7 separate regions of the Homo sapiens genome follow, and all the other regions are reported to be linked to region 1. The links are microRNA targets in miRTarBase. Many come from high-throughput screens and were not tested one by one. Region 1 holds a microRNA gene; each other region holds the end of a gene's coding sequence.

Region 1 (4,065 bases):
CGTCGTGTCCCGGCTGCCCTGCAGTCGCCTCCAACACCCGCTGCTGCCCGCCCGCTGCCTGCCTGCCTGGCATCTCTCTCTCCCGGTGGGTCCCCACTCATCCTTCCACCCCTCAGTTCCTCCTCTTTGAGGAAAGGACCTCCCCGCTCTCTGCTGTGTCTGTGACTGGCCTGAGACCCGCCTGGGGCAGGAGGGGTGGTTGTGGAAGGAAAGAGCCCAGAGTTAGGAGGTGGAATGTGGGGTCCCACAGCTGCCCCCTCTCTAACTCCCTGCTTCCTCCTTTGCCCTCCTTGGTCCAGCTGTGCCAGGATGGGGGTGGGGGTAGCAGTGGGCACGCTCTGTCTGCAGGAAGCCACGCTAGACAGAAGGGGCCACTCCCTCTCTCTCTCCCTTGTCCCCGCACAGACACTGCCTTCCTCTCAGGGCTGTGCTGGGCTTTTTGCTGAGCAGTGTTGGGTGAGGCAGGTGGGCCTGCAGGGCGGGTGGGAAGGGCTGTCAGATGACCAGTGCTGTGTGTGTGTGGTTGGGGCCCCTGCTGCGAACACATCCCTGCCCACCATGCTGGCAACTGGGATCCCCTCCATCCCATCCCAGGCCCTGGGAACCCAGTGCTCTCCAGCAGGCAAGGGTGAAGGACCCATAGTCATTCCTGAAGAGCAGGGAGCTTGGAGAGGGGAGGGATCCTGGCTGAAGACACCTGGGCCTCTGCCCCAGCAGGACAACAGGAGGGCCAGTGTCACCTTCTCCTCCTTTCCCTGCTGGGGGTGGCAGGGGTCCCTTTACCCCCTCATTCTTGACCCTTCTCCAGGGATGCTTGTGACCTCCTTACCCCACCCCCCATCACCTCTCTGTCCTGAAGTGAGGGTTTGTCACCGTCCATGGCAAGGTGTGGTGTCTGGTAGGCTCTATGACCTGCCTTCTCTCAGGGTGTTTATTCTGCAGCAGAGAGGGGTCTGCGGTCTGAGTGTAATGGTGGAAATCCAGGCTTCCTTCCATGGCCCAAGGAGGCCTTTCCGGAGCAACAGGGTTTTCCTGGGACTCAGCCTGGCTTTTGTTAAGGCAGGTCCCGGATTTACTCAGAAGATGGGCCCCAGAGAGGAGGAGAGGAAAGGAATACCTGTCAGTCAAACGTGAAGCCCACTGATGACACTGCCTGGCAGAGCTGCCTCCGGTCAGCAGTGACCCTTCACCCCCCAGCTCCCAAGTCCTCTTCCTGAGGGAGCTGGTCCGGCTTTATGGAAGGCTCCGCCTGTGTTCCCCCACTGGGTCCCTGGTCCCTCACCTGTCACGTGGGGCGATGGTCACCCTCCCTCCCTGCCTGCCCTGAAGGATACACTGAGATGAAGGTCAGGAAATCTGCTGGCTGCAGAACCAGGGGCCATGCAGGAGTGAGGGATGGTCTGGTCAAGTTGAGGCTCTGCCCCAGCCTCAGTTTCCCCACACAGGCATGAGACTGTCTTCCTGACTTTCAGAGGACAGGGCTGAGATGGGATGAGGGAACACAGGGAAAGCGTTTAGCACCTCTGAGTGCTGTGTGGATGCGACCTGGGGGGTCCTGGCCTCCACTCTTTAATTCTATCTGGACTGTGTGCCCTCCTACCTCCAGTTTCCCTGCGGGGGCCTTTCACAGGGCCTGGCTTGCGGATACGGGGTTTGGCGTAGGGCAGTGCTTCTCAAATGGGAAGGCGCACTGGGATTCTTCAGGTTGGGGTGGGGCCTGAGGTTCTGCATTTCTAATCAGTTGCCTAGGACTGGCTCTAATTCTTGTTGAATTTACAATCACTTGTGGAGTTAAGAAAAACATACTGGGCCTTGGTTGGGTGTGGTGGCTCACACCTGTAATCCCAGCACTTTGGGAGGCCAAGGTGGGCAGATCATGAGGTCGAGAGATTGAGACCATCCTGGCCAACATGGTGAAACCTTGTCTCTACTAAAAAAAAAAAAAAAAAAAAATTAGCTGGGCATGGTGGCAGGCGCCTGTAATCCCAGCTACTTGGGAGGCTGAGGCAGGAGAATCACTTGAACCCGGGAGGTGGAGGTTGCAGTGAGCTGAGATTGCACCATTGCACTCCAGCCTGGGCAAAAAGAGCGAAACTCTGTCTCAAAAAAAAAAAAAAAAAGAAAAAAAGAAAAACATACTGAGCCAGGCGTGGTGACTCATTCCTGTAAGCCCAGCACTTTGGGAGGCCGAGGCGGGCAGATCACCTGAGGGCAGGAGTTCGAGACCAGCCTGGCCAACATGGTGAAACCCCATGTCTACTAAAAATACAAAAATTAACTGGGCATGGTGGCACGCACCTGTAATCCCAGCTACGTGGGAGCCTGAGGCAGGAGAATCACTTGAACTCAAGAGGCAGAGGTTGCAGTGAGCCGAGATCGCACCACTGCACTGCAGCCTGGGTGACAGAGTAAGACTCTGTCTCATAAAAACAAACAACAACAACAACAAAAAAACATACTGGAGCCTAGATCCCACCCCAGACTGGTTGATTCTGAATTTCTGGGGCTGAGGTACAAGCATAAAGTTCCCTGGGAGGTCTTCACAGAGTCTCTGGATCCCTGAGGCTGTGAATGACCCCCTTCCAGAGCCAAAATCACCAGGGATGGAGGAGGGGTCTTGGGTACTGGACCCACCAGCCAGGCAGGTTATACTGGGGTATCCGGAGAGCTTTGGGGTGTGGCAGGGGAGGGCCTATGCACTGGGAAGGTGGAGGGCCGACGGGCACAGGTTAGTGGTCGAGGGCAGCATAGTGACAGACAGAAGCTACCCTGTGGGTCTTCAGCCGAGTCTGAGTGCGCTGGGGTGGCTGTGGGAGCTCCCCTGAGCATTTTCTAGGCCACCTCCACCTTTGGATAAGGCTGTGTCATCCTCAGTCTCGGATGTAGTGGAAAGTGACTTGAAGTCAAGAAATCCTGCCACTAGTACCCAAGGGGCCTTAGGCAGATCACGCTATTAACCTCTCAGGACTCGGCTTTTGCATATGTACGATGTTGATAATCTTATGCACCCTTGATATCCCCAAGTGATGAGAGAATTAAATAAGAATACACACACACATCTCCCCTACCTAGCATAGTGACTGCTCAATAAATGTGAGTCAGAGGAAATCATTTAGCTATTAGGCCAGCACTGGGAGGTGTGGAGGATGCTCACCTCAGGTCAAGTGCACAAGTATTAACCGAGCAGCCACCACGGCCTCACAGTCAGGAGTTTATCATTTGCCTTTTGAATCCTAATGTCAGACCAGGTGGCATTCCTGCTTGGGATGACAAGCTCCTCTGTCATGGGTGGGCCTCCTCTGCCATGCCCCTTAACAGCGAAGGCGACACTCTAGGGCCTCCCCAGGTGCCGGCTCAGCTGTGAGGGCTCCTGTCATCGGACTTCATCCTCCCAACAACCCTCTGAGTAGATGCTATTATTCTCATTTTAGGGAGGAAACTGAGGCACAAAGCGATTCAGTGACAGGCCTGAGCTCGCCCAGCGAATGATGACAGGGTGTGGACTGGGACCTGTGGTTGGTCCCAGCCCAGCCTCTGACCACTCTGCTCTATTGCCCCTAGGCTGCAAGTGCAGCTGCAGGTTGGCCTGCTCCTGCCTCCTCTCCTTGCCTGGGCCTTTGGGCCTGCTCCACCTTCCCCTGGAGCGCTGTCCTCCCTCTGCCTGCTGGCGGTCTAGGCACTGCTGCAGCCCCACTGAGAGGTCCTCTTCCAGGACACACCTTGGGCACCTTGGTTGGAATTCTTTTCCCTATGACTTTCCCTCAGAGGAGGAGACACCTTCAGATGTGCTCTGCCTCCTTACTGAACAGCCTGGAGGACAGGCCAGTCTCCAGTTCCTATTGGGAGCCCCTGAGGCCATGCTCAGCCTCGGCTCACCTTCCCTGAGCCGAGTTGCTGTCAGAGTTCCAAGGAGGAAAAGACCAGGGAGGCTGGAGCGGGCAGGAGTGGCTTCCTGGAGGCAGAGGGTCTGAGCTCTGGGGGAGGAGGATGGCATTCCATGGCCTGTCCCAACAGGGGCTCTTGCCCCTCCCTGTTTCTGGTGCAAGCAGAGGGTCTCGGACCCAG
Region 2 (4,065 bases), not on the chromosome of region 1:
ACCCCAAGTGAGCCTCCCTACTCCACCCCAGCTTAGGAAAGAGGAACCTAACCTGGAGGCTGCAGGGAAGGGAGCAGTCTAAACATAATCCAAGGCAGAAAATTGGAGGTGGAGCAGTGGCCCTGGGTCTTTGAGCCTGGCCATCTGGGGGTGCGGGAGGCCCTGAAAGCATTTTTCTCTCAGCCCATGGTCTTGTCTTTCACCATTTCATCCACTCAGTCTGAAGCTAGGGATGGGGATTTGGCACCAGATAGAGGTGGGAACTCAGGAATGTGTCTCATGAGAGGGCAGGAAAGGAATGGGGAAGTGTCCTCTTTGTGCCTTGTGGGGTTCCCTTGGCTTTTGTCAATTGCACCCCATCGCATTGTCCCTGGTAGCACCGTTAAGAGGTCTGTGGCCCAGACTGACCTTTTGCTTTGTCATCTTTTAGGATCAGCTCATCAGGAACTCAGGATCTGGTACCTGCCTGACATCCCAGGACAAAAAGCCAGCCATGGCCCCCTGCAATCCCAGTGACCCCCATCAGTTGTGGCTCTTTGTCTAGGACCCAGATCATCCCCAGAGAGAGCCCCCACAAGCTCCTCAGGAAACAGGATTGCTGATGTCTGGGAACCTGATCACCAGCTTCTCTGGAGGCCGTAAAGATGGATTTCTAAACCCACTGGGTGGCAAGGCAGGACCTTCCTAATCCTTGCAACAACATTGGGCCCATTTTCTTTCCTTCACACCGATGGAAGAGACCATTAGGACATATATTTAGCCTAGCGTTTTCCTGTTCTAGAAATAGAGGCTCCCAAAGTAGGGAAGGCAGCTGGGGGAGGGTTCAGGGCAGCAATGCTGAGTTCAAGAAAAGTACTTCAGGCTGGGCACAGTGGCTCATGCCTGAAATCCTAGCACTTTGGGAAGACAATGTGGGAGAATGGCTTGAGCCCAGGAGTTCAAGACCGGCCTGAGCAACATAGTGAGGATCCCATCTCTACGCCCACCCTCCCCCCGGCAAAAAAAAAAAGCTGGGTATGGTGGCTTATGCCTGTAGTCGCAGCTACTCAGAAGGCTGAGGTGGGAGGATTGCTTGTTCCCCGGAGGTTGAAGCTACAGTGAGCCTTGATTGTGTCACTGCACTCCAGCCTGGGCAACAGGTAAGACTCTGTCTCAAAAAAAAACAAAAAAGAAGAAGAAAAGTACTTCTACAGCCATGTCCTATTCCTTGATCATCCAAAGCACCTGCAGAGTCCAGTGAAATGATATATTCTGGCTGGGCACAGTGGCTCACACCTGTAATCCTAGCACTTTGGGAGGCCAAGGCAGGTGGATCACCTGAGGTCAGAAGTTTGAAACCAGCCTGGACTACATGGTGAAACTCCATCTCTACTAAAAGTACAAAAATTAGCTGGGCATGATGGCACGCACCTGCAGTCCCAGCTACTTGGGAGGCTGAGGCAGGAGAATCACTCGAACCCAGGAGGCAGAGGTTGCAGTGAGCCAAGACAGCACCATTGCACCCCAGCCTGAGCAACAAGAGCGAAACTCCATCTCAGGAAAAAAAAAAAAAAAAAAAGTATATTCTAACAGACAGATCAGAGGTCTAAGAGATCCTCCCTTGCTATTATTACCTGAAGTCTGTAGAACTGTTTACAGATATCTCCTTGACAGGTGTCCTTTATCTTACTTTATCTGTACAGTAATCCTGTGAGAAAGACAGGACAGAAACCACTGTGCCTATTTTACAGATACGAAAACTGAGACACAGGTAAAGGGGCTTGTCTGTAGTCCCATAGCTAGCAGATGGCTGGAGCCAAGACTGAGGCTCGTTCTTCAATGCTGAGCCAGGGCTCCTTCCGCTGCACCACAAGAACGCTAGACCACTCGCCACCAGCCTTCTCATTCCCTCTTCCTCCATTCTAATCATTTCTAGCTGGCTGGCCTCCACAGAGCATAGGAAAACAGCCAGGGCCGGGCACGGTGGCTCATGCCTGTAATCTCAACACTCTGGGAGGCCGAGCCGGGTGGATAACCTGAGGTCAGGAATTCGAGACCAGCCTGGCCAACATGGTAAAACCCCATCTCTACTAAAAATATAAAAATTAGCCAGGCATGGTGGCGCACACCTGTAATCCCAGCTACTCAAGAGGCTGAGGCAGGAGAATTGCTTAAATCTGGGAGGCGGAAGTTGCAGTGAGCCAAGATCGCGCCACTGAACTCCAGCCTAGGCAACAAGAGCAAAACTCCATCTCCAAAAAAAAGAAAGGAAAAACAGGGCCAGGTAGCCATTGTGGAGAGAGCACACTTAGGAATCCTGGGATGTTAGTGTTAAAAGAAAGCTCCTGGAGCCAGTGATTCTCAGGTTTGTCCCAGAACCCTTTTTTCTAAGCCCCATATAAAAGGTAGATTAAAAAAACAAAGTAGCATGAGTGAAATTGAGAGAGGGACAGGTAATGCCTTCCAGCCCCTAACTTCTAACAATCTGGAAGCACAACGTGAAAATCACGTAGCCCAACCCTATCATTTTCATATTATGAAACTGAGTCCAGGTAAGTGAATCTGTCCAAGGTCACCCAGCAAGGTATCAGTAGCCCTGAGGGTAAGGACTCTGATAAGGCTCGGGAGGGTCCTGGAAAGCCTGAGGCGGCAGGAAGAGTGTGCAGAGTTGAGCGTGTCTGGAAGGCTGATCCACTGCTGGGCCCACATCAAAGCCCCCATGGGGAGCAGACCCGACTGCACATGGCTCTTTTGCTGGAAGAAGAGCATGGCTGCGCAGAGGACTAAAATTTCATCTGGGAAGGCTTCTTTTGACTGTCAGTAGCAGGATGTCACCAGATGAGGGTGCTATGGGACCACAGCTGTCTTTGTTCCCATTGCAACTCAACCCTGCGGGAGGCCGCCTACATCCCTGAGAGCCTTCTGGAGCCTACAGAGGAGACATTGGCCAGCCAAAAGGAAAGGAGTGGCCAGGGTACGACCTGGAGTAGGGAAGGGAAAAAGTTCCCGGAAAGAAGAGAATTGGATGAGAGGTCTCAGTGGAAATAAAGGTTTTCTGGCATTGGTCAAGGAAACTCGCGTTGTGTTCTCTTACCTGTGTTGTCCCTTAGCTGAATCAGTTGATTTGGGCTATGAAGAACCACACACATCTGAAAAGTTCTGTTACAGCCACTGTCTCATGTCCCCAAACATTCTCTGGCCCTAAATCTAGCTTATGTATTGTGTCAAGCACGTGGAGACGTGAGACGTCAAACGAGGTCCTGTCCCCGTGGAACTCACACGCTAAATGTAAGCAAATCATAGCAAGCCTGGAGATGCTCCAAGAGGTGCTGGATGAGTTAGAAGGAGCAATTCCTTCCACTTAGGGAATCAGATAAGGCCTCACAAAGATGGCAATGTTTGACCTAAGACCTCGGAAGATGAGTCCTCAGATGGGAAGGGCTCAATAAGCAGAGTTGTTACACAGGCAGCAGCCTGGCAGGAGCAAAGCCACAGAGGACATGTGGCCCCAGTGGGTCTGAGAAACCCAGAGGACATTGGGGTGAGGGAGTGACTGGTGTAGAAGCTGGAAGATCAGAGTTACATCATGAATTTCAGGGGCCCTAGGCACTTTAGCCTTCACGGAGCTCTTGCTCCATTCAAAAAAAAATTAATGTTATGACTATGTTGGTATAAAGATGAATGTAATCCAGGCTGATTGGATTTACTTTATTTCTTCTGGTTTTAAAAGAAGCTAAAACATTTCTATGGGCCCTGGGCACTGCACCTGCTGTGCCTACTGGGTAACTCAGCCCCGTACAAGAGTGGGTTGGGGCCCAGTTGAGAGAGGCTTTGGTAGGTCCGGTAAGCCACAGGGAGTCGTGGAGCCTAACCCTAGCCTTATTCTTGGTTGCATTAAATATCCAAACGTGGATCCCAGTATCCCTCATACTGTCTATGGTATCACCCAACAGCTCCCCAGCCTAATCATATGATGTAGCCCAACCAAGGTGCCCAGCTGTGTCAAGAAGGTTCCACCTGCCCCCAAATAGCATAGCACTTCCCAGGCACAGTCAGCCAAGAGCTACTCGCAGGGAGTGGGAGATG
Region 3 (4,065 bases), not on the chromosome of region 1:
CCTCAGAGAGACACCAGAGGCAGGACCCAGCCCCCAGGCATACACACAGATGCAGGTCCAGGCACGGTCTTGTCTGCACAGCCTGGTGGGCACCAGCATGCATCCCTGGAGACAGGCCCTCAGGCACCAGCCCGGCTGTTTACTCACTGAAGAGCTGCTTGGGTGTCTGCTACGTGCTGGGCCCTAGAGATAGAGCAGTGGCCAAGACGTACCTTAGTACCCAGGTCCTTGGGGTGAGCAGAAACCTTCACCCTCCCCAGTCCCATGGGCTCCTCACAGCAACCCCACAAGGGCAGTGCCGGGATGCTGAACGTTCACACAAGGACAGGGAGGGTCTGAGTTTAGGTCTCAGGTTCTTCCAGTGCGCCCAGGGCTGGGGGCCACCTACACAGATGGTGAGGTCGGACCATGGCGCCCCTGCCCCCGGGAATGGGCCCCAGGCAGGGCTGCTGTGAGGGCCAAGGTCTGGCCACGCTGGCCAGTACCCATGTCCGGGCCTGAATGCACAGCCCCTGCCCCCGACCCCACAGCTCACTCCACTAACCAGCTCTCTCTCTTTTGACTTTCAGACCAGTTGTTAAATTGCCCGCCTCCGCCAAGGGCCCCCTGGGTGTGTAATGTCCAGTCCCCAGCCAGGCTCTGTCCCCTGCCATACCTAGACTGTGTGTTTCATATTTTTTTGGAAAGAGAAGTGAACATCCAGCCCCAATCATGGTATCATTCGGTCTGTCCTCAGCGTGGCTTGGACGGGGCCTGTGTCAGAGTGGTCAGTGCTGACCCCTGGGGCTCTTGGGCAGAAAGATGAGGAGACAGAGGTCCAGGGTGGGTTACATAGCACATCCAGGGCTAAGCAAGAAATAATTCAGAGGTCCTACCCTCTGTCTAGGGACCCCCCTCCCAAGCCTGGCCTTGGCCTTGGCACAAAGTCCTCCTTGATAGGAGATCCCACTCACTCCTGGAGGCTGCCCCTGAGGCTTGGCCCAGCTCTAGGAGCAGTCCCCAGGGTCAGGGAGCCCCTGGTGTGGAAAGAGGCCCCAAGGTAGTAAACCCTGCCCCTGTTACTGTGCTCCAGAGACCTCCTAAGGGAAGGGACAGTTCCTGGAAGGCCCTCCAGCTGGATGCTGGGGATCAGCGATAGGTGAGGGGACACAGTGTAGGAGCTCCCCATGTAGAAAAGGGAATGTGGGGAGGGCGTTAGGAGCTTGCAGGCATTAGGACTGTCCTGAGCAAGGTCTGCAGCCCCCAGCTCTGCTCACCCCGAATCCTGCCCCTTGTTTCCACACCTACCATTCCTCCTCTCCTGATCCCCAGCATCCAGCTGAGGTCCAAGGTCTTTGTCCTAGAATCAGAGTGGGGAGGGGACAGCCTGGGGCTGCCCAGAGACTGTGGGTGGAGCTGCCTGCTGCACTCAGCAGTGCGGTCAGAGAAGGGCTTTTGGTCTTGAAGTCCAGGTACCATCCCCCCTTAGCATACAGGGGGAAGGGCCTGAGAGGAATGTAAGGAAACCAGCCCAGATCAGTCCCAAGGCCAGAGTCCTTTGTCCTACATCTCCCTGAACCAGAGTGTGCCCTGCCCCTCATGCTCAGACCTCTCCCACCCCAAACCCTCTCCCGGGACTCAGTCTCCCTGGCCACTGCGTATCAGGCTTCTGGGGAAAGCATCCATCACAGAACCTCCCCTTCCCTGCCACGCACCTTCCTTGGCCAGCTCCATTCTGGCCTCCTCCACCACCTGCCTTGTGACCACATCTCCCACCACGTCCCCAGATCTCAAGAACGCAGCTCAGCTTCTCCTTCGAGCTTGACTCTGAGAGGGAAAGTGACGGAAACCAAGTCAGATGAGATGACTGCCATGTACACTGCAGTCAAGGGCAGGGAGGGGAGGAATGACACAAATGGCAGGGAGCTGCTGGGGGACTGACCCCTCGGCGCCTGGCCTGGCCGGTGCTGCACATCCACCGGGGCACAACAGGGACTTGTCCAGCCTCTGGTCAGAGGATGTGGCCACCTGACCCTAAATAGGTTCCCCAGAGTCCTGCCCCTCTAATGAATGAGAACTGCAGGAGTTTCTCCTCTGGGTGCCTGAAGCTATAGTGCAATGGTTCCCAACCCTGCATGCACATTCGAATCACCTGGGGGCACAATGCCTAGGCTCCAACCCCAGACACTCTTATTTCATTGGTCTGGGTGGACCTGGCATCAGAAGTCATGTAGCTCCTCAGGGGACTGTAGTGTGTGGTCAGCACTGAGGGCTCCTCTATGAGGCCTCAAGCCCAGGTGACTCTGTGAGGTCTGCAGAGGGAGAAAAGAACCCACAAGGGAAGAGGTGGAGGTCAGGCACGGTGGCTCACGCTTGTAATCCCAGCACTTTGGGAGGCCGAGGTGGGTAGATACCTGAAGTCAGGAGTTCGAGACTAGCCTGGCCAATATGGTAAAACCCCGTGTCTATTAAAAATACAAAAATTAGCTGGCTGTGGTGGTGGGCACCTGTAATCCCAGCTACTCGGGAGGCTGAGGCAGGAGAATCGCTTGAACTCGGGAGGTGGAGGTTGCAGTCAGCCAAGATCGTGCCACTGCACACCATCCTGGATGACAGAGCAAGACTCCATCACAAAAAAAAAAAAAAAAAAGAAAAGAAAAGAGGTGGGTAGCCGGGCGTGGCGGCTCATGCCTGTAATCCCAACACTTTGGGAGGCTGAGGTGGGTGGGTCACAAGGTCAGGAGTTCGAGACCAGCCTGGCCAACATGGTGAAACCCTGTCTCTATTTTTAAAAAATACAAAAATTAGCCGGCTGTGGTGGTGGGCACCTGTAATCCCAGCTACTCGGGAGGCTGAGGCAGGAGAATTGCTTGAACTCAGGAGGCGAAAGCTGCAGTGAGCCAAGATTGTGCCACTGCACTCCAGCCTGGGCAACAGAGCAAGACTCCATCTCAAAAAAGAAAGAAAGAAAAGAGGTGGGGAGAGGAAGCCCCACTCACTCCTGCCTTTCCCAATACCAGGCTGTTCTGTGACACGCCCACATCTTCCCAATCAATTCCCCTTTTGGCTGAAAAAACGTTGAGTTTGAATCCTGTCCCACACAGCCAGAAGAGCCCTACCTAACAGGATTTGGAACCTGGAAACTCAGCACAGCCTTGCGGAATCCTGTTATATGGTGCCAGTGGAGCAGGGGTGGGATCATCCTCCTATTCTAGGCTGGGTGTTGGGCAGTCCTTGCTATTTGGTCATGAAGCAGCTGGCCAGGAAACCACACGTCATTCTCTCTTGAGATTCAGGGTCCAATGGAGAATGCGAGGATAGAGTGTGCTGGCTACTTCTTGTGGGTTTCAGGGATAGGCTGCAAGACAGACAAGATACATGCAAGTGGCGGGGGGCGGCGGGAGCGCTGGAGGGGGTGCCTGATGGCAAAGTGGGAACAAGCTTCAGTCTGTTCCTTAGGGGAAGCCCTTTCTGCCTATAGCCAGGGATTAAAGATGCAGAGGGTCAGAGAACCACACGTCTCGCTGAATTAAACAACCAACTAACACACTGATTTAAAATGTAGTGAGATCCTGGCAATGAGAAGATATCTGGGAAAAAACCAGAGGAATTTGAAGCTAAAAGACTGAGATGCCTGTTCCCACAGGCTTCTCCTGAAGCAAACCCACTCATATATCTACAACAAGGCCACCTGGGCTGCCAACTGGAGGCAGGGCTGATAATCCGGGCGTCATGTCCAGGTTGTTGTTTACTGTCCTAGCCTTAAGGCTAAAGGACTGGGGAGAGACCCAGGAAGGTAGGGCTCAGACTCAAAAGGCATGATTCTAAGGCTTTTGCCTTATTCTAAAGCATTGTGTATTACTAAACAGAGTCGTCCTGTTCCCCGCCCCCCCCACCCCAGAAGGAAATTGGCAGGCCATAAAATATGATTGTAGGAGGAATACACCCATGTACTCAGCCCCAGGGCCAAGGAGCACAGAAACAGAAGATGTTCAGCAAAAAGGAGTGAACCTGAGCCCCTGGAGAAGCTGATCAGGAAAATATGCTATTGCTTGGGAAGAGGCTCAAAAACTGTGCAGCTGAGAA
Region 4 (4,065 bases), not on the chromosome of region 1:
GCCCAACCTCCCCAAGGAGACTCGCAGAGAGAAACATGGATCCGATCAGCTTTTCCTTTTTATAAACTGGAAATAACTGTGAAGAGTCCATAGCTAGGGGGCAGATAGCTATTTCCAAAGCCAGTTCCAAGGCACCTCAAAGCAGTTCAGTCCTGAATAATTGTGCTTTGTTCTTATAAGCTAAATCCCATGGGTTAGCCAGCCCGTCTCTCTTTGCAGTGGCCCTTAATTAGGAGGAAGAGACAGATGGGGGGTGGGGGCAGAGGGAGGTTCTGAGAGAGCAGGAGAGGCTGGGGCAGTTGAGAAAGTCAGCCGACTAAAACCAGCAGAGCGTGGTGGTGGGAACATGCAACCAGAAGTGGGGCTCGAACCCCACGGTAGGAAGAGGAAGAACTTGTCAGCATAAGTTAGGAAACAGGGTAGGGAAATGGCTGCTGTGGAAACATCTCTCTGGTTTTCCACCTCTACTTACAGAAGCCCCATTTTGCTCCCAACTTCACCATCCTGGGGGAGGCAGCTCTATGAGTCCTCTGGAGGAGATTCTAAGAGGCTCCAGAAGAAAATGCATATGAGGGCTGAGCACCTGGGACAGAGATGGTTCCTGACCCAGCCCCATCTGCTGGGGCCCTGAGGCCCGTGAAGAGACATTGCTTTTCCTGGGCCCCAGTTGATCAGGGCAGAGGAAAAAAAGACTCCAGGAATCTTGGGCTTCTTGATGGAGAGTTAGAACTTCTTAGAATACACTAGGAAAGCCCGCAAATAATTCCCCTAAATGTTATGGATCCTGGAAAAAGATAAGTTCCCAACATCAGCACAGCTCCTCACTCATCCTGGGAGAGAAGGACACTTAAAGGGTGACCAAAAAAATGAAATCTGCAAGCTGCAGAAATGTATACAACCACTCTTGGTCTCAGCTGGCATGAGGTGCCCGCCACCCACCTCTCTGCCCCCAGCTGGCTGGCTCAAGGATGGGCAGCGTCCATCTGCTGCAGGCATCCTGGCGGCTTAGCCCACCCGCATTGGCAGTGTGTTGATTGGCAGTTAGGTACTGAGCTGATGAGTTTAGCATTTCCAGATGGGCTTGACTCGCTCACCTCACCCAGGTGTTACCAGGCTGGTTGCCCATCCCCCACTCTGCACCCACTCTGCCTGGCCTCTGCACCCTTGACCCTGTTGTATTGCCCCTCTTCCCTGCTGTTTCTCCCTTCCCAGGGCACAGATTCTAGAATCTCTTCATCTTCCCCAACTGTAGCCTTGGAAGCAGTGTCTTGCAGAGGTGGAATTAGATGCACCAAAAAGTTAATCTTGGTCCCTACAGTGCCAACCTGGCAGTCCCCAGTGCTTATGGCTTTGTGTATATCCCCAGTGCCCGGCACAGTGCCTGGCACATAATAGATGCTCAATAAATGGTTGCTGAATTGAAGCAAATTAAGCTGAATCTCCCAGATGATATTGCTGTCTCCCCAAATTGGCAATCTGATGGGCAGAGGCAGGGATTGGTCCCTGAGACTGTCACGGTCCTGTCTCCACCCCCTTTCCTAGACTTATTCCCTACCCTGGGCACCTGACTCCTTGAGTAGGGGTGGGGCAGAGCTCCTGGAAAGGCTGGGAAGTGCTGGGGCAGGGAATGGGGCATTTGCCAGCAGCTGTGCCCTTCACACTTGCTCCCTCCCTCCCTGCTTCCCTCCACTCCTCCTCAGTCCTGGCCAGAGGGGCTGGGCTCCTGGGAGGGGGCAGGGCTAGAGAAGCCCACCCCTCCAACTCGCCCCATCATAGACCAGGACACAGAGGCCCCTCCCACTGGGAAAATGATGGCTCTGTTGCTTCAAACTGGAGACTGAGGAGCCAGAGAAGAGGGCAGGACCCTCAGTTTCTGTCAGTTGGAACCTCAGTTTCCCCATTTTAAGTGAGTGACTTGGCTAGTTGATCTCTGAGGATCTTCCAAGGTCATGGTCTCAGAGTCAGTGTTTCTGCCTCTTGCTCCTTCTCTCAGGCCTAATCAATTTCCATTGAATGTGAGTGTAATGGCAGTGATGGTTGGCTCCGCACAATTGCCTTTTTTTTTTTTTTTTTTTTTTTTTGAGATGGAGTCTCTCTATGTCACCCAGGCTGAATTGCAGTGGCACTATCACTATCTCAGTTCACTGCAACCTCTGCTTCCCGGGCTCAAGCGATTCTCCTGCCTCAGCCTCCCAAATAGCTGGGATTACAGGCACACGCCACCACGCCCAGCTAATTCTTGTATTTTTAGTAGAGATGGGGTTTTGCCCATTTCTACTAAACAGATGGAGGTAATCCACCCGCCTTGGCCTCCCAAAGTGCTGGGATTACAGGCGTGAGCCACTGTGCCTGGCCTACAATTGTCACTTTTGTCCCCACGAAGGGAGTTGTTGGGAGAGGAGCGAGTAGTGTGGCTGCAGATGGGACAGGGCTGGCATTGGCAGCTCAGGTTCCAAGGCCTCCCCTTATGCCGGCCTCAGGCTTTCCCTTCCCTCTCTGTAGCCAAAAGCCAGGTGGAAACCCCACCAAGGGCAACTGGGAGAGTTCTCACTGAAGCCCCAAAGAAAGCTGCCCCACCCTGTGCATGGCCTCCTCATTTCCCAGCCTTGGCTGCCCCTGCCCAGGCGAGGGTGGTTACCCCATGGAGAAGGCAGAGCCTGCAGCAACCTGCATTCACCATGGAGCCCCACCCCTCAGCCCCTCAGCTGACTTTGAAACTGGCCTCTGTTGGTGGGTCCCCGCTGGGAAACATGGCCCCCTACCTGGAGCTGCTCTTCCAGTCTGGCCTCATCCACAGTCCTAAGGGATTAGGAGCCAACGGGAGCCCCAAGGAGGCCACTAGCAATGGAAACGAGGGCCCAACATGGCCTCCTGGGCCAGGGCACATGTCCAGCTTTGCCTGCAGCCCTGGCTTTCCGTCAGTGCCCTGGAATGCACAGTCATCCCTTTAACATGCCCCTCCAAGTTTCAGGAACTCATCGTCACCTCCAGCCTGATGGCTGCTCTGGGCTGGGAGCAGGGGAGGAGCACAGCCGTGCCAGGCCAAGGCCCTCCTGAGGGAGCGCTGTCAGCACAGGAAAGCCCTCCCTCCCCACCAGGTCCTCTCTGAAGCCACTGCCAGGCCAAGCACTGGGCAGGTGGACAGCGGCCCCCTCCTCTACCCCTGCCCACCCACTCCCTTCTCTCTGGGGACCCTCACATGTGCCTCCTGCCTCCCCCCAGGGACTGGCAGGTGGGAGCCCTTTCTCTCCTCTCCCCAGGGCCCACACGTCCCAGAGCATGGCAGGTTTCTCGGATGGAAGAGAGTGGGTCACTCTTGGTGCAGGGTGGGAGATACGAAGTCGGGGGTTCAGGAGGCCCCAGGTGGGCCCTGGGGTCCTAGGTCACGGGAAGCACACCAAGAGCGAGCAGGCAGGGTCACTGTACAGGGCGGAGAGGGGAGGAGACGGGACACGGGAGGCTGCAGGGCCGGCCACCCACTACTTGGCGCCATCATCCGGGTTGCCTTCACCGTCCGTCTTGCCCTCCTCCTCGGTCTTCAGGTCATCTGTGCTCAGCTTCTGCTCTTTTTTTCTCCTCACACACTTGACCACCATCAGCACCAAGATGACCACAGCCAGGAAGCCCCCGACGGAGGCACCCACAATCACGGCCACCGTGGAGTCCCGCTCAGGGGGCTCTGGAAAGGAAGCAGAGCCACTGAGCACCAGGGCTGGGAAAGGGGCCTCCCCCATCACCCCACTACCCGTGGCATGCGTGGAACCATCCTGACTTTACTCTCCTCCACAGACAGGACTTTAGCAAAGCCGAAAAGCAATCCAGTGACTGACCCTGAAGCGCCGCCACCTCCAAATCCCAGGACACCCAAAGCCCCCAGAGGAGCTAGTGTGATGAAGTATTTAAGAGCATGAACTTTAAGATCAAACAGACCCAAATTTGAGTCCTAATTGTACAACTTACGAATTGCGTGACCTTAAGTAACTTATCCTCTCTAACCTCAGTTTTCTAACATGTAAAATGGGCTTAATAATAGTACCTCCCTCAAAGGTTTTCATGAGGATGAGA
Region 5 (4,065 bases), not on the chromosome of region 1:
GCTTTAGAGAGCTACCCCTTAAACAATGCCTTTCCTGGACAGTTTTTTCAAATGCCGAGTGGACAACTCCAACCCAACCTACCTCCAGACCTCAGGGCTCCTGTTGTTTTTGTGCTAGTGCCTCTCAGGGACTTACCACCAATGCATATGGGCCAAAACCCAAATAAACCCAGGAATATCGTAAGGCACTTAAATATGCCTCAAATGTCATTCCAGGAAACCAAGGACCTTGGAAGGCTTCCCACTGGAAGGTCAGTGGAGATAGTGGAAATCACAGAACAGTTTGCAAGTAGCAAGGAGGCAGATGAAAAGAAGAAGAAGAAAGGGAAGAAATAAAATCTACATTCCTACAGCATGAAACCAATTACCAAGGGACTTATTAGATAGGCAATAAAAATCTGGAAACTTTCTCTCTCAGGGCTGAGCCAAGATGGAGATAAACTGATGCACTAAAAGCAAACCTTGAATTATTTACCATATCAACTATTATAAAGTTACACTATTTTAAACATAATCCAAAATGTTTCCATAAGCAACTTGATCTCTCTCCTTTATTTTGAAAGTGGCAGTATCAAAATGGAACCATTAGCAGCTTGCTAATATTTTGATGCAGAAAAGGAATCTCATTATTCTATTTTACTCACATCATCTTTCCACTACAAAAGCCCATGGACAAAATAGCTACCTAAATTTGTTTCGGTAAAAAATTTACTGTAAAATTGAAAAACAGCCTGAAGCTACTGACATTAAGTGCTGTTTGCAGGAGCAAACCAGTGATTTTCTATTAATTGTTAATCATGGACAGAAGATTTTAGGCAGCTCATTTTTTTCTAAAGTGATTCAAAATAGTTTTGTGTGGGAAAAAGCTCTTCTGCTGATTACATATAGCTATAAAGATTAAAACCTAGCCACCTGCTCAGTTTGATCTTCCCCAGCTCAGACCTCTCCCTTCTGAGCAGATGATAGAGGTAAGATGATACATGAGAACCTCCAATGGCTCCTGTCATCACATACTGTATAAAATCCAAGTTCCTCTTACTGGCTTTCAAGGATCCTCCTTTAACTTCCTGTTGCCTTGTCTCATCAGCAAGATCATAAGTACCTACAGGTCAAGCACTGTCTCTCCCTTCTCTTTAGCTTTTCCCTTAGGATCTAGCACATTACCCAGCAAAATGTGAGTAGCAAGGCTGAAATGACATCTCAATAACTTCACCAATGATTGTAACTCAGCATCCCTTCTCCATCCCAGCTGAAAGCCTGCTTCACCATCCTGCAAGAGATGTTTTTTCTTTTTGTTAGCATCCATTCCCCTTTCTAATGCAGCTCCCAATGCATAATGTGTGTTTTACTTCCCTCTTTCTGACTCCATCCTCGTCACCAGTGAATATTTGTACCTTCTCTTAAAATCTTCAAAACACACTTCTAGGAAGTGCTCCTTGATTAATCCTCTAAGCACTTAAATGAAAGCACTTTGCTTATGCTTATTTCACATTTGCTGCCACTTGCCTCTTTGAAATATGTAAAGATACATTACAAGAAAAATGTACATTTTCTCGTAACTTGCTATTAATTTTTTTCTTTATATATATATATAAAGTAATCCTAAGCTAATAAAAGAGTTTGCCATGACATTAAAACATTTAATACTCCATAAGGGAGGAGGAGAAAGAAAAACATATTTTAGGAATAGCAATTAGTATTGTGGTTAAAATAAACATGAATAAAAATTTTAAAACAAAGTTTTATTGTTAGCATACAAATTTTAATGGAATTACTGGAATATAGTTTTATTCTGGGTATATAGTGAGTATTATTTAAAGAAGTACTGTTGAGGTTTATTTTTATTTCATGAAATCCTATGTCCACAATTTGGGATACTGAGTTAAAAAGATCCCAACATGACAAATCCAGCATCTCTGATCATTATTAAAATAGATCCAATTTGTTGCCAGAAAATGGCAGACTACAACATGAACCAGGCTACAGAGAATCCAATTAGAAACATGGTCTGAAATAGATGATGAACTGAACCTGGATATCAGTGGTATATAACAAAAGGAGAAGTTGTCAGAACTATAGGAAAGAAAGTGCCTTTGGCAGTTAAACTTTTGTACTGGTTCGATAAGACTAGGGCTACAAAGAAGATTACTCACAGGTCGTAAGTCCAGGCCAACCTTAGACAAAAGACTGTTAGAAGAGCATAAAGATATACTGTCCAAGGCAAGTAATCTGTTTCCTCATCTGTAAAACAAGAAATGTGGGCTAGTTCATCTTTAAGGTTCCTTTCAGCTCCGTCTGCTATAAGAAGGCATATAGCAAAGCAATAGTTCCACAAAGTGAGATCCTGCAGTGCAGTGATTAGCTTTCCTTGCTCACTACGCAGTGATTCTTGGTCATATCAGGCTGGCCGGGGATTGAGAGAGAGAAATTGGGTTGCTCCACCCCTCTTCAGCCAACTGGCAATGGTGATATGGAAGAATATCTCTGCCACCACACATATAGAACTAATGGAAATAAAGAAAATAGAAGTAAATTAAGGTAGCTAGTAATATGATGATCTGGAAAAGGCACTGGGATATATCCCAAGAAAACAATGAGACTGAAGAGACGGACACATTATCTTGGTGAATCTACCAAGGTCCAGGGTTTGGGGGTCTTAGCTTTATATGCTCAACTACCTACTTAGTAAGTACAGGGAGAATGGATTTACTCATCAGAAGCAGGTTTGGATTAACAAACCTCTTGAGATTGACATGTAAAGACAAAAAACTAATGTACTGATTTCTAGTAAGACTTATAACTGGATATGCAAGCATATATTCAAGTCATCCAGGTTACATAGCCTCTCCATGTAGATAAGCTACATAGCAAGCCAAATTATCATAAGGTTGCCTTATGGATTAGAGGAGTCCATTATGTGACTCAAATGTTTAGTGCTATCAGATTCTGCTTTAGTAGTGGTGACTGACATCTGCTTAGAATGAAGTGGTGGATGGGGTATGCACAAAGGCATCTCATTCCTGGACAATGTTTGGGAGGGTCTAGGCAACAAGAGACAACACAAACCTCTATGACCAGCTCCTGTCATAGCATCGATTTTCTATGTGACTAGAAATCCGTTTTCTATGTTTCATCAAGCTACAATCCAATTTATATAATACTAAATAGATTAGAATTCATCAAGCTATAATCTAATCCTGCTGATCGGACAGCAAATCCTATTTCTTTAAACTGCCGTTACATCTTTTTTATTCATAGTATAAGCAATCCAAAAAGTTTAACTCACAGAATGGAATCTTACTCTTCGTATTGGTTTTTAAGGAAAGCCACATAAATAAATTTAAAAATTAAAAAAATAAAATAAAATAAATTTTAAAAGGAAAGCCACATCATAACCTATGCTAATTTAAAATAATATTATTCGGCCAGGCGTGGTGGCTACTGCCTGTAATCTCAGTACTTTGGTAGGCTGAGGCAGGAGGACTGCTTCAGCCCAGGAAGTAGAGGCTGCAGCGAGCCATGATCACACCACTACACTCCAGCCTGGGCAACATAGCAAGACCCTGTTTCTAAAAAATAATATTATCATTATTACTAACATTGAGTGAGAGCTATATGTCAAGTATTTTTCTAAGCACTTACATGTATTAATTCATTTAATCCTCCCAATAATCCTATGAGGTAGATATTATTATAATAACTACTTTACATATAAGGAAATTGTGGCACAGATAATTTAAGTAACTGCCCAAGTAGTAAAAAAAGGCTGAGCTGAGCGTTAAACCCAAGAAGTCAAGCTCCAGAATCCATGTTCTTAATCATTATGCCTTAATGCTTCTCTAAATAATAACAATGCAGATTCACTACAAAGTCTGAAAGAATCCATATTTATTTAGGACCTGTCCTGTAGCTTTTCTGTCATTCTGCTCAAACCACAGTACCAATGGGCATCCTCTAAACTATGGAAGCCAGGTAGGCAGGGTGGGCTAGGGTGGAAAACTTTAGTAGGTTCTAGATCCCAGAACTTTGGCCCTCCCCCACTCCCCTGTCGCCCAGGACCTCATG
Region 6 (4,065 bases), not on the chromosome of region 1:
TAATAAATTTGTGGTTTGAATATATAGGAAATAAAGCCACAAGATTGATAAGATTTTTTTTATACAGGATGAGGATGAAGAAGTATACAAGAGAGATTTCAGCGCTCCTACCCTGGAGGATCATTTCAATAAAACCATTCTTCCTAAAGTCATGCAGGTATGGGGAACCTTAATAACATGACAGAGAAAAGTGATGTATTGATAGCTGAGGCATGGTTTGTTTGGTGGTATAACTCATCATCCATCCTTCCCTCAGGTCAAGAACTTTGGACGCTCAGGTCGCACCAAATACACTCACCTTGTGGATCAAGATACCACCTCCTTTGACTCAGCTTGGGGCCAAGAGAGTGCCCAGAACACAAAGTTCTTCAAACAAAAGGCAGCTGGGGTACGAGATGTATTTGAGCGGCCATCTGCCAAGAAGCGGAAAACTACCTAGGGTCCAACTGCTTATTCTTCCAACTGTGGAACACAAGGGGAGTCTCAGCATCTGGTCCTTGATTTGGTTTTTTCATTGTTTCCTTGGCCCCTGTATCCAGATATTGGACTTACTGCTATACTTGTGATACTGGGTAGCCCAGACTTTGAAGGTGCTTTGTGAGGTTTGGACTCATGCTGAGAAACCCACAGGAAAGCACTGTCCAGGTAGGATTAGAGGCTTCCCACTTAAAACTATTTCTGAGAAATCTTAGGTTTTATCACTGCTATGGTTTCCCATATTTACTTGGGACTGTTCTGACTTTCTTTTTCCAGCCCTTAGCTTGGGTTAGAAAAGTGGACATGTAAGTGAACAATGCATTACTTCTACCTTAGGTTTAGGAGTAATATACCCGGAAATCTAAGCTCATGGAAACATGTTTTCCATTTTTGCTTGGAGTCCGTTTTTCTAGTTGTACATACTTTTTGATCCATATATGTGTGCATGTCAAGAAATAAAAGAATCACACAACAAGGAGATTTTTAGCATGATACTGGAAATAAAATGTCCAAGCTGACAAGTATTAATTGCCTATTAAAGTAAAAGATAACAATTGTCAGGCAGAAGGTGTTTCACATTTTGATAATTCCCTTTGATCTCAGAAACAAGCTCAGGTACTAGCTTGGCTTTAGGTAGCATCTGGATTTATTCCATGACCAAATACAGATGTTTTTGAGAAGACCAAGGTCTTCTCACATCCTTTAAATGTCCCACTGGAAGAATCAAATAGTTTAGTGTCGTACGATAAAAATGAATGCAAATAATTACTATGAGGTGGTAAATACATAAAGATGAACACAGGTACAAGTCACTGTTGTGTGGGATACAATCTAAGAATTATCCTAGAGTCAGAATGAGGGTAAGGCCTTGAAACTCTTGGAGAAATGTCTGTAATTGCCATTTGAGTGTCCTTACAGCAGACTCAGGGGCCGTTGCAGGGTTTTTTTTTTGTTTGTTTGTTTGTTTTAAAGAGACGGCTCTGTTGCCCAGGCTAGAGTGCCTCAGCCTCCCGAGTAGCTGGGACTACAGGCGCCTGCCACCATGCCTGGCTAATTTTTGTATTTTTAGTAGAGACGGGGTTTCACCATGTTAGCCAGGATGGTCTTGATCTTCACTTCGCGATCCGCCCGCCTCAGCCTCCCAAAGTGCTGAGATTACAGGCGTTGAGCCACTGTGCCTAGCTGGGGCCGTCACAGTTTTATAGTTGAGGAAACTAGTTCAACATGTGTGAGTTGGTCCAAGCTGATTTTTTTTTTTTTTTTTTTTGAGATGGAGTTTCACTCTTGTTGCCCAGTCTGGAGTGCAGTGGCGCGATCTCTGCTCACTGCAACCTCCTGGGTTCAAGAGATTCTCCTGCCTCAGCCTCCCTAGTAGCTGGAATTACAGGCGTCCACCACCACACCCAGCTAATTTTTTTTTGTACTTTTAGTAGAGATGGGGTTTCACCATTTTGGCCAGGCTCGTCTCAAACTCCTGATCCCAGGTGATCCACCTGCCTCGGCCTCCCAGAGTGCTGGGATTATAGGCATGCGCCACCACGCCCGGCCCTGATTAACCTTTAAAGTAAAATTACCTTCTCTCTAGGATAGGAAATGGCATGTAGAATGTATTATGGCTTAGAATTTGAATACCAATCAAAACCTTTCATAGGTTTTTTTCGTTTTGAGACAGTCTTGCTCTGTCGCCCAGGCTGGAGTGCAGTAGCACAATCTCAGCTCACTGCAGCCTCAACCTCCCAGGCTCAAGCAAATCCATCTCAGCCTCCAGAGTATCTGGGACCACAGACAGGCACATGCCACCATGCCTGGCTTTTTTTTTTTTTAATTTTAGTAGAGACAAGGTCATGCTATGTTGCCCAGGCTGGTCTGGAAATCCTGACCTGACACAGTCCTCCCAGCCCAGCCTCCCCAAAGTGCTGGGGTTACAGGCATGAGTCACCACACCTGGCCCAACCTTTGATATCTTCTAGTCTTACCATGTTCTAACCCTCAGGTACCTAAATTCTTTTTTTGGTGGTGGGGGGAGCGCGGTAGAGACGAAATCTCACTGTGTTGCCCAAGCTGGTCTCAAACTGCTGGGCTCAAGTGATCGTCTTGCCTCAGCTTCCCAAGGTGTTGGGATTACAGGCATGAGCCACCATGCCTGGCCCCTAAATTCTTTTTTGTTGTTTTGTTTTTGAGACAGTCTCGCTCTGTCACCCAGGCTGGAGTACAGTGGCACAATCTCAGCTCACTGCAACTTCCGCCTCCCTGGTTCAAGCAATTCTTCTGCTTCAGCCTCCTGAGTAGCTGGGACTACAGGCATGCACCACCACGCCTGGCTAATTTTATTTTTTTTGTATTTTTAGTAGAGACAGGGTTTCACCATGTTGGCCAGGCTTGTCTTCAACTCCTGACCTCATGATCCGACTGCCTCAGCCTCCCAAAGTGCTGGGATTACAGGTGTGAGCCACTGTGCCCGGGCTTTTTTTTTTTTTTTTTTTTTTGAGATGGAGTTTCACTCTTTCCCCCAGGCTGGAGTACAGTAGTACAGTAGTGTGATCTCAGCTCACTGCAACCTCTGCTTTCCAATTTCAAGCGATTCCTGCCTCAGCCTCCAGAATAGCTGGGATTATAGGCGCCCACCACCATGCCCAGCTAATTTTTCTATTTTCAGTGGAGACGGGGTTTCACATGTTGGCCAGGCTGGTCTTGAATTCCTGACCTCGTGATCTACCTGCCTCGACCTCCCAAAGTGCTGGGATTAGAGGTGTGAGCCACAGCACCCAGCCAAATTATTTTTTTTTAATCACTCAAAATCAAGCATGTTGTAGGTACCAAAATTCTAACTCAAGGTGGCCTATGAACTGGGTTCATAACCTACATCTATCTATATATATAGTGGCTCCTAGGCAGGTAGCTGGCCTTTTAGATATTCATAAGCTGTCTTGGAGACACATGCCATTTGAGTACAGTAACTCTGCTGAGACTCCAGATGTACCTTGAATACTGTTGAGAGCTAGTCAGATGAATGAGACTGGCCTGCCACCTAGCATCTGCACATGAGGTATTCTTCTACACTGATTTTTCATACAGGTGTGCTAGATTTTAATGGGTCACTTAAATTCAGTTAGTCTCCAACATATAAATTCTCCACAACATAGGATATAGTATACACTCTACTTGACCCAAGATGATAAAACTGAAAAAGACAAAAAAAAATTTTATTGCCATAAATTAATCCAGTAGGTATATTTGAGAAAGCACGCATCAGTTGGTTAGGGCAATAAGCGCCTCTACCACGTTGCCCATGTGTTCCCGCAAACTGCGTTCTGCTGCTGCTCGAGATATCTCCATCTCAGTCATCTGCAGAAAAAAATCATGTTACATAGGTTCCCAGGCATTAATGTGCCACCAAATATACTGACTCCGCTTGTTTCAGGAAACAACCCAAATTAAGCAGAATAGCCTCCCCTCCGCATACACTAGTTAGGCACTACCACTCACTATTAGCTCCAGATCTTCCTTCTTGATAGTGACTTTTGCCAGTTCTTTCTCCCTGCAAAAATATTTAAATATATTAGTCCTCATTCTCAACCAACACCATAA
Region 7 (4,065 bases), not on the chromosome of region 1:
GCTATTCTTTTTAAGGAGTGGCAAGATATGCCTGTTGACGATGTCATTGGTACTTTGAGTGGCTTCTTTACAATCATTGTGGGGATATTCTTGTTGCATGCCTTTAAAGACGTCAGCTTTAGTCTAGCAAGTCTGCCTGTGTCTTTTCGAAAAGACGAGAAAGCAATGAATGGCAATCTCTCTAATATGTATGAAGTTCTTAATAATAATGAAGAAAGCTTAACCTGTGGAATCGAACAACACACTGGTGAAAATGTCTCCCGAAGAAATGGAAATCTGACAGCTTTTTAAGAAAGGTGTAATTAAAGGTTAATCTGTGATTGTTATGAAGTGAATTTGAATATCATCAGAATGTGTCTGAAAAAACATTGTCCTCAAATAATGTTCTTTAAAGGCAATCTTTTTAAAGATTTCACTAATTTGGACCAAGAAATTACTTTTCTTGTATTTAAACAAACAATGGTAGCTCACTAAAATGACCTCAGCACATGACGATTTCTATTAACATTTTATTGTTGTAGAAGTATTTTACATTTTCATCCCTTCTCCAAAAGCCGAATGCACTAATGACAGTTTTAAGTCTATGAAAATGCTTTATTTTTTCATTGGTGATGAAAGTCTGAAATGTGCATTTGTCATCCCCACTCCATCAATCCCTGACCATGTAAGGCTTTTTTATTTTAAAAAAACAGAGTTATCCCAATACATTATCCTGTGATTTACCTTACCTACAAAAGTGGCTCCTGTTTGTTTGATGATGATTGGTTTTATTTTTGAAATATTTATTAAGGGAAAACTAAGTTACTGAATGAAGGAACCTCTTTCTTACAAAACAAAAAAAAGGGCAGAAATCACCCCAAGGAACGATTTCTCAGGTTGAGATGATCACCGTGAATCCGGCTTCCTCTGAGCATTCGATGGCCTTAGCACCTCATCAAGCCAGCACATCCTGCCTGCTGTTGCAGCCTGGCTGGGTTTATTCTTCAGTTACCCTAATCCCATGATGCCTGGAACCTTGATTACCGTTTTACATCAGCTCTTGTACTTTTCAGTATATTTTCATAATGAGTTATATTGTCATTTAGACTTTGAACAGCTCTGGGAAATAGAAGACTAGGGTTGTTTCTTAAATTTAGCTCATGTTATAATAAAAAGTTGAAATGAAGTTCTTATTCTAAAAGTCTGAATGCTTAGAACAAACTTAACATGTTTATAGAATATGGTCTCTTTGTACCAAGTACTTTGCTTAAGAGCTCCTTTGGGCCACTACATATTTTGGTTTCTAGAAAATGTTTGTTTATGAAGAAGTCGATGGAAAACTGCAAACATATGCAGAAAAGGTAGAATAATAAAAAAGGTCTAATGAACTCCATTCAGCTTTGAACCTATCCACTCATAACCATTGACTGGCCTTTAAAAAAAAGTATTGGCAGAATTAATTTCCACCTAGGTGATGGGAAGAAAGTGTTCGCCTGTTCCAGCCTGTGGCTCCTGCCTGGAGGTTACCCAGTGGTGCGCCAGCGCCAAGCCATCACTCCCCGAGGGCCTCCCCTGCCAATGGTGCTGGTATCCCATGCAGCTCACCACTGGCTGCGTGGAAACTCCCTTTTTTCCAACTTTATTATTGGCCTTCTAAGGAGCTGTTTTAGATGTTTTTTCTAACTGCCTCCTCCCATGCCATTTTAATACTACAGATGTACTACGTATCTGTTTATATACTGTACCTACATCTGTGCTTTGTACATAAAAGAACCAGTTTTCTCCCCCTTGAGGACAGAGACTCATTTGAACATGCATAGGTTAATAAATAATAAATTCTTATTTAACATTTTGTAGCACTTGAGATTGTCTTATACCTAAGGTATTACATATTTGGTATATAATTAAGCCTTATAAAACTTGGTAATTGATTAAGTTTTACCATAATTTTTCATCCTATTCTGTAGTTTCTAAGATAAGCACAGCTACCACCTCTAAATCTGCAGCAGAATGCTGGCCCCAGGGTTATTAATTCACATTACCAAAAGCATTTTTAGGGAACTTTTTATAAAGAAAGAATAATTGTTTGTTAGGCTTCATGTCACTTGAGTGAGTTTGGCAGTGTAACAGGATGGTTCGTACACTTACTACTTTTCTGTGCCGTGCATCATATGCTTCTGGACAGTTTCCAAAGGCCTCCGGAAAAGTAGGCGAGGCCTGCTTTTTATGGCAACTTGGCATCCATAGAAAATTTTAAAATTGGTGAAGGTTGCAATACTCCAAATAATGTAAAATGACTGCCAGGCTACAATATAAAGTGAGTTCAGTTAATCATGCTGGACTTGTGTTTATCTGTAGTATTCATCTACAATAAACAGGCATAGCATCTTTTTCCATTCAGTTAGTTAGGATTTTCAGAACCTCATTGCCTTAGTACTTTTTAAAATATGGCTTTAGTTTCTCAAACATGTTCGTGACTCTACTGGTAGTCTAGACCGATTGTTTTTCATTCTGACAGATCATGTGAACCAGCTCCAGCCATGTGAGCCCTGTGGATCGGGGACAGCTGAAGGCTGGACTCGGTGCTCCCGGTCCCTTTGTGCAGCACCCACTGGGCCTGACTGATCTCCTCCCACATTGCTGGCTTCCTCCAGGTCATGGGCACAGGTAACAGAGAGGCACTGAGTAGCCTCTTCATATCCAGATTGGAGCAGCCAACACGGCCGTTTTACACCTCATTTGCCTGCGGAACCCTAAATATAAAGCTAAACCTGTGCTGAGGTGAGCGGTATATGGGATGGTGTCACGGTCCCATCCCACCTCAGCCTTAGAGGTGACCTCCATCCCAGCTGGCCTGGTATGTGAGTTCAGGTTAGAGTTCCTTGCCAAGCCAGGCAGCACAGGGTTAGAGTAAATAAATGAACACAAATAGATCTCATTAGTTTTATTTCTATAACCTTTCGATCTGATGTCACGTTAGATTTTGTCACAACTGGATTTAGTGGAAGCAGGGGAATCAAGTTCACTATTTTCTGAAACACACAAAAAAGGGATGGGAACAATGACTTAGAACTAAGATTGCTCATAAAAGACCATCAGAAAGATCCCTAAACAAAAGCTAAATAGTTACAGTTAATGGTAACTGGCAAGGGATTTAATGCATTTGCTGGTATTAAGTTTCTTATGGAATGAATGAATGAACCCAGCAGCATTTTATGACACAGCTGCCAGAACATCCCATAGAAAAACAATTTTGTAGGAACGTGATGGCAACAATCAGCAGCCAATATTCTCAAGAGTTCCTAATTACCAAAAGCATATACAATTTTAGTCTAGAAAAATAAGTCAATTTTATAAAATTAAGTTTTTAGATCGAAAAGCACCCCCTTTAACAGGTACAGAGATACTGAAAAATAGTCCCTAAAAATCTCACTAAATAGTTTACGGAGAGAAAGGCATGCCATGTTGAGTTACGGAGTGCAGCGCGTGCCCTCAGCTGCTGGCGAGGGACTGGTGGATGGGCGGCTGGAAGCAGCGCACATGCTCCACTGGCGTGCCCTCCCCGTCGCCTGACTTCAGGTACTTATCCAGGATGGTGATGATCTCATCATTGAGAATCTGGAACTTGCGAATTCTCTCCACCATCTTCTTCAAAGGCTACAACCATCAAAGTGAGGATGTTTTACTATTAACACTTCAACATTTATTCTTCATGTTTCAAAATGTCAGGATTCTTATATTTTCTCAGAAAAATAATAGCAAACGGAATTGACACACATACTGTTCTTTTTGGGTTTTTTTTTGTAAGATAGGGTCTCACTCTGACGCCCAGGCTGGAGTGCAGTGGCATGATCACGGCTCACTGTAGCCTCAAGACATCCTCCCACCTCAGCCTCCTGAGTAGCTGGGACCACAGGCGTGTACCACCACACGCAGCTAATTTTTAAATTTAATTTTGTAAAGACAAGGTCTTATTATGCTGTCCAGGATGGTCTTGAACTCCTGAGCTCAAGCAATCCTCCTCTGCCTCAGCCTCCCAAACTGTTGGGATTACAGGTATGAGCCAGCACTCCCAGCCACATACCA

Evidence for each region. The annotated mature microRNA hsa-miR-4534 reads GGAUGGAGGAGGGGUCU and lies in region 1 at 2,602-2,618, shown strand. An mRNA with a match to its seed (bases 2 to 7 or 8) in the 3' UTR can be bound and repressed. Matches are read on the target gene's strand: a 7mer-m8 pairs with bases 2 to 8, a 7mer-A1 pairs with bases 2 to 7 and ends in A, and an 8mer does both.
Region 2: miRTarBase lists GALNT6 as a target of hsa-miR-4534. Seed matches in the 3' UTR shown: 7mer-m8 at 1,361-1,367, 7mer-m8 at 1,528-1,534 and 7mer-m8 at 2,226-2,232.
Region 3: miRTarBase lists CLDN19 as a target of hsa-miR-4534. Seed matches in the 3' UTR shown: 7mer-A1 at 1,661-1,667 and 8mer at 2,603-2,610.
Region 4: the mRNA of SCN2B is a reported target of hsa-miR-4534. Seed matches in the 3' UTR shown: 7mer-m8 at 2,285-2,291, 7mer-m8 at 2,084-2,090 and 8mer at 714-721.
Region 5: the mRNA of APOBEC4 is a reported target of hsa-miR-4534. Seed matches in the 3' UTR shown: 7mer-m8 at 1,239-1,245 and 7mer-m8 at 1,364-1,370.
Region 6: the mRNA of HYPK is a reported target of hsa-miR-4534. Seed matches in the 3' UTR shown: 7mer-m8 at 2,966-2,972 and 7mer-m8 at 1,747-1,753.
Region 7: the mRNA of NIPA2 is a reported target of hsa-miR-4534. Seed matches in the 3' UTR shown: 8mer at 645-652.

The regions. Positions count from the first base shown.
Region 1 is chr22:37,986,228-37,990,292 of GRCh38, forward strand. MIR4534 (microRNA 4534) reads left to right here and starts at 2,567; the gene lies at 2,567-2,626. It also overlaps a transcript of POLR2F not described here. RefSeq lists an enhancer at 1-223.
Region 2 is chr12:51,350,858-51,354,922 of GRCh38, reverse strand. It overlaps GALNT6 (polypeptide N-acetylgalactosaminyltransferase 6), which reads left to right. Exons shown (of 12, transcript NM_007210.4): 12 at 431-3,671. The coding sequence ends at 544. Among named protein-coding and RNA genes, the nearest start is that of CELA1, 6.2 kb to the right of the region's middle.
Region 3 is chr1:42,731,639-42,735,703 of GRCh38, reverse strand. CLDN19 (claudin 19) reads left to right here. Exons shown (of 5, transcript NM_148960.3): 5 at 570-2,611. The coding sequence ends at 618. Among named protein-coding and RNA genes, the nearest start is that of CLDN19, 6.6 kb to the left of the region's middle.
Region 4 is chr11:118,163,408-118,167,472 of GRCh38, forward strand. SCN2B (sodium voltage-gated channel beta subunit 2) reads right to left here. Exons shown (of 4, transcript NM_004588.5): 4 at 1-3,679. The coding sequence ends at 3,480. Among named protein-coding and RNA genes, the nearest start is that of SCN2B, 11 kb to the right of the region's middle.
Region 5 is chr1:183,643,949-183,648,013 of GRCh38, reverse strand. APOBEC4 (apolipoprotein B mRNA editing enzyme catalytic polypeptide like 4) reads left to right here. Exons shown (of 2, transcript NM_203454.3): 2 at 1-1,739. The coding sequence ends at 336. It also overlaps a transcript of RGL1 not described here. Among named protein-coding and RNA genes, the nearest start is that of APOBEC4, 7.3 kb to the left of the region's middle. RefSeq lists a silencer at 1,966-2,260.
Region 6 is chr15:43,801,468-43,805,532 of GRCh38, reverse strand. HYPK (huntingtin interacting protein K) reads right to left here. Exons shown (of 4, transcript NM_016400.4): 3 at 3,964-4,015; 4 at 1,106-3,822. The coding sequence ends at 3,727. It overlaps MFAP1 (microfibril associated protein 1), which reads left to right. Exons shown (of 9, transcript NM_005926.3): 8 at 68-157; 9 at 257-1,041. The coding sequence ends at 439. SERF2-C15ORF63 (SERF2-C15orf63 readthrough) reads right to left here. Exons shown (of 6, transcript NR_037673.1): 5 at 3,964-4,015; 6 at 2,944-3,822. Among named protein-coding and RNA genes, the nearest start is that of HYPK, 2.9 kb to the right of the region's middle.
Region 7 is chr15:22,866,557-22,870,621 of GRCh38, forward strand. It overlaps NIPA2 (NIPA magnesium transporter 2), which reads left to right. Exons shown (of 8, transcript NM_030922.7): 8 at 1-1,828. The coding sequence ends at 291. CYFIP1 (cytoplasmic FMR1 interacting protein 1) reads right to left here. Exons shown (of 31, transcript NM_014608.6): 31 at 496-3,636. The coding sequence ends at 3,472. Among named protein-coding and RNA genes, the nearest start is that of NIPA2, 30 kb to the left of the region's middle.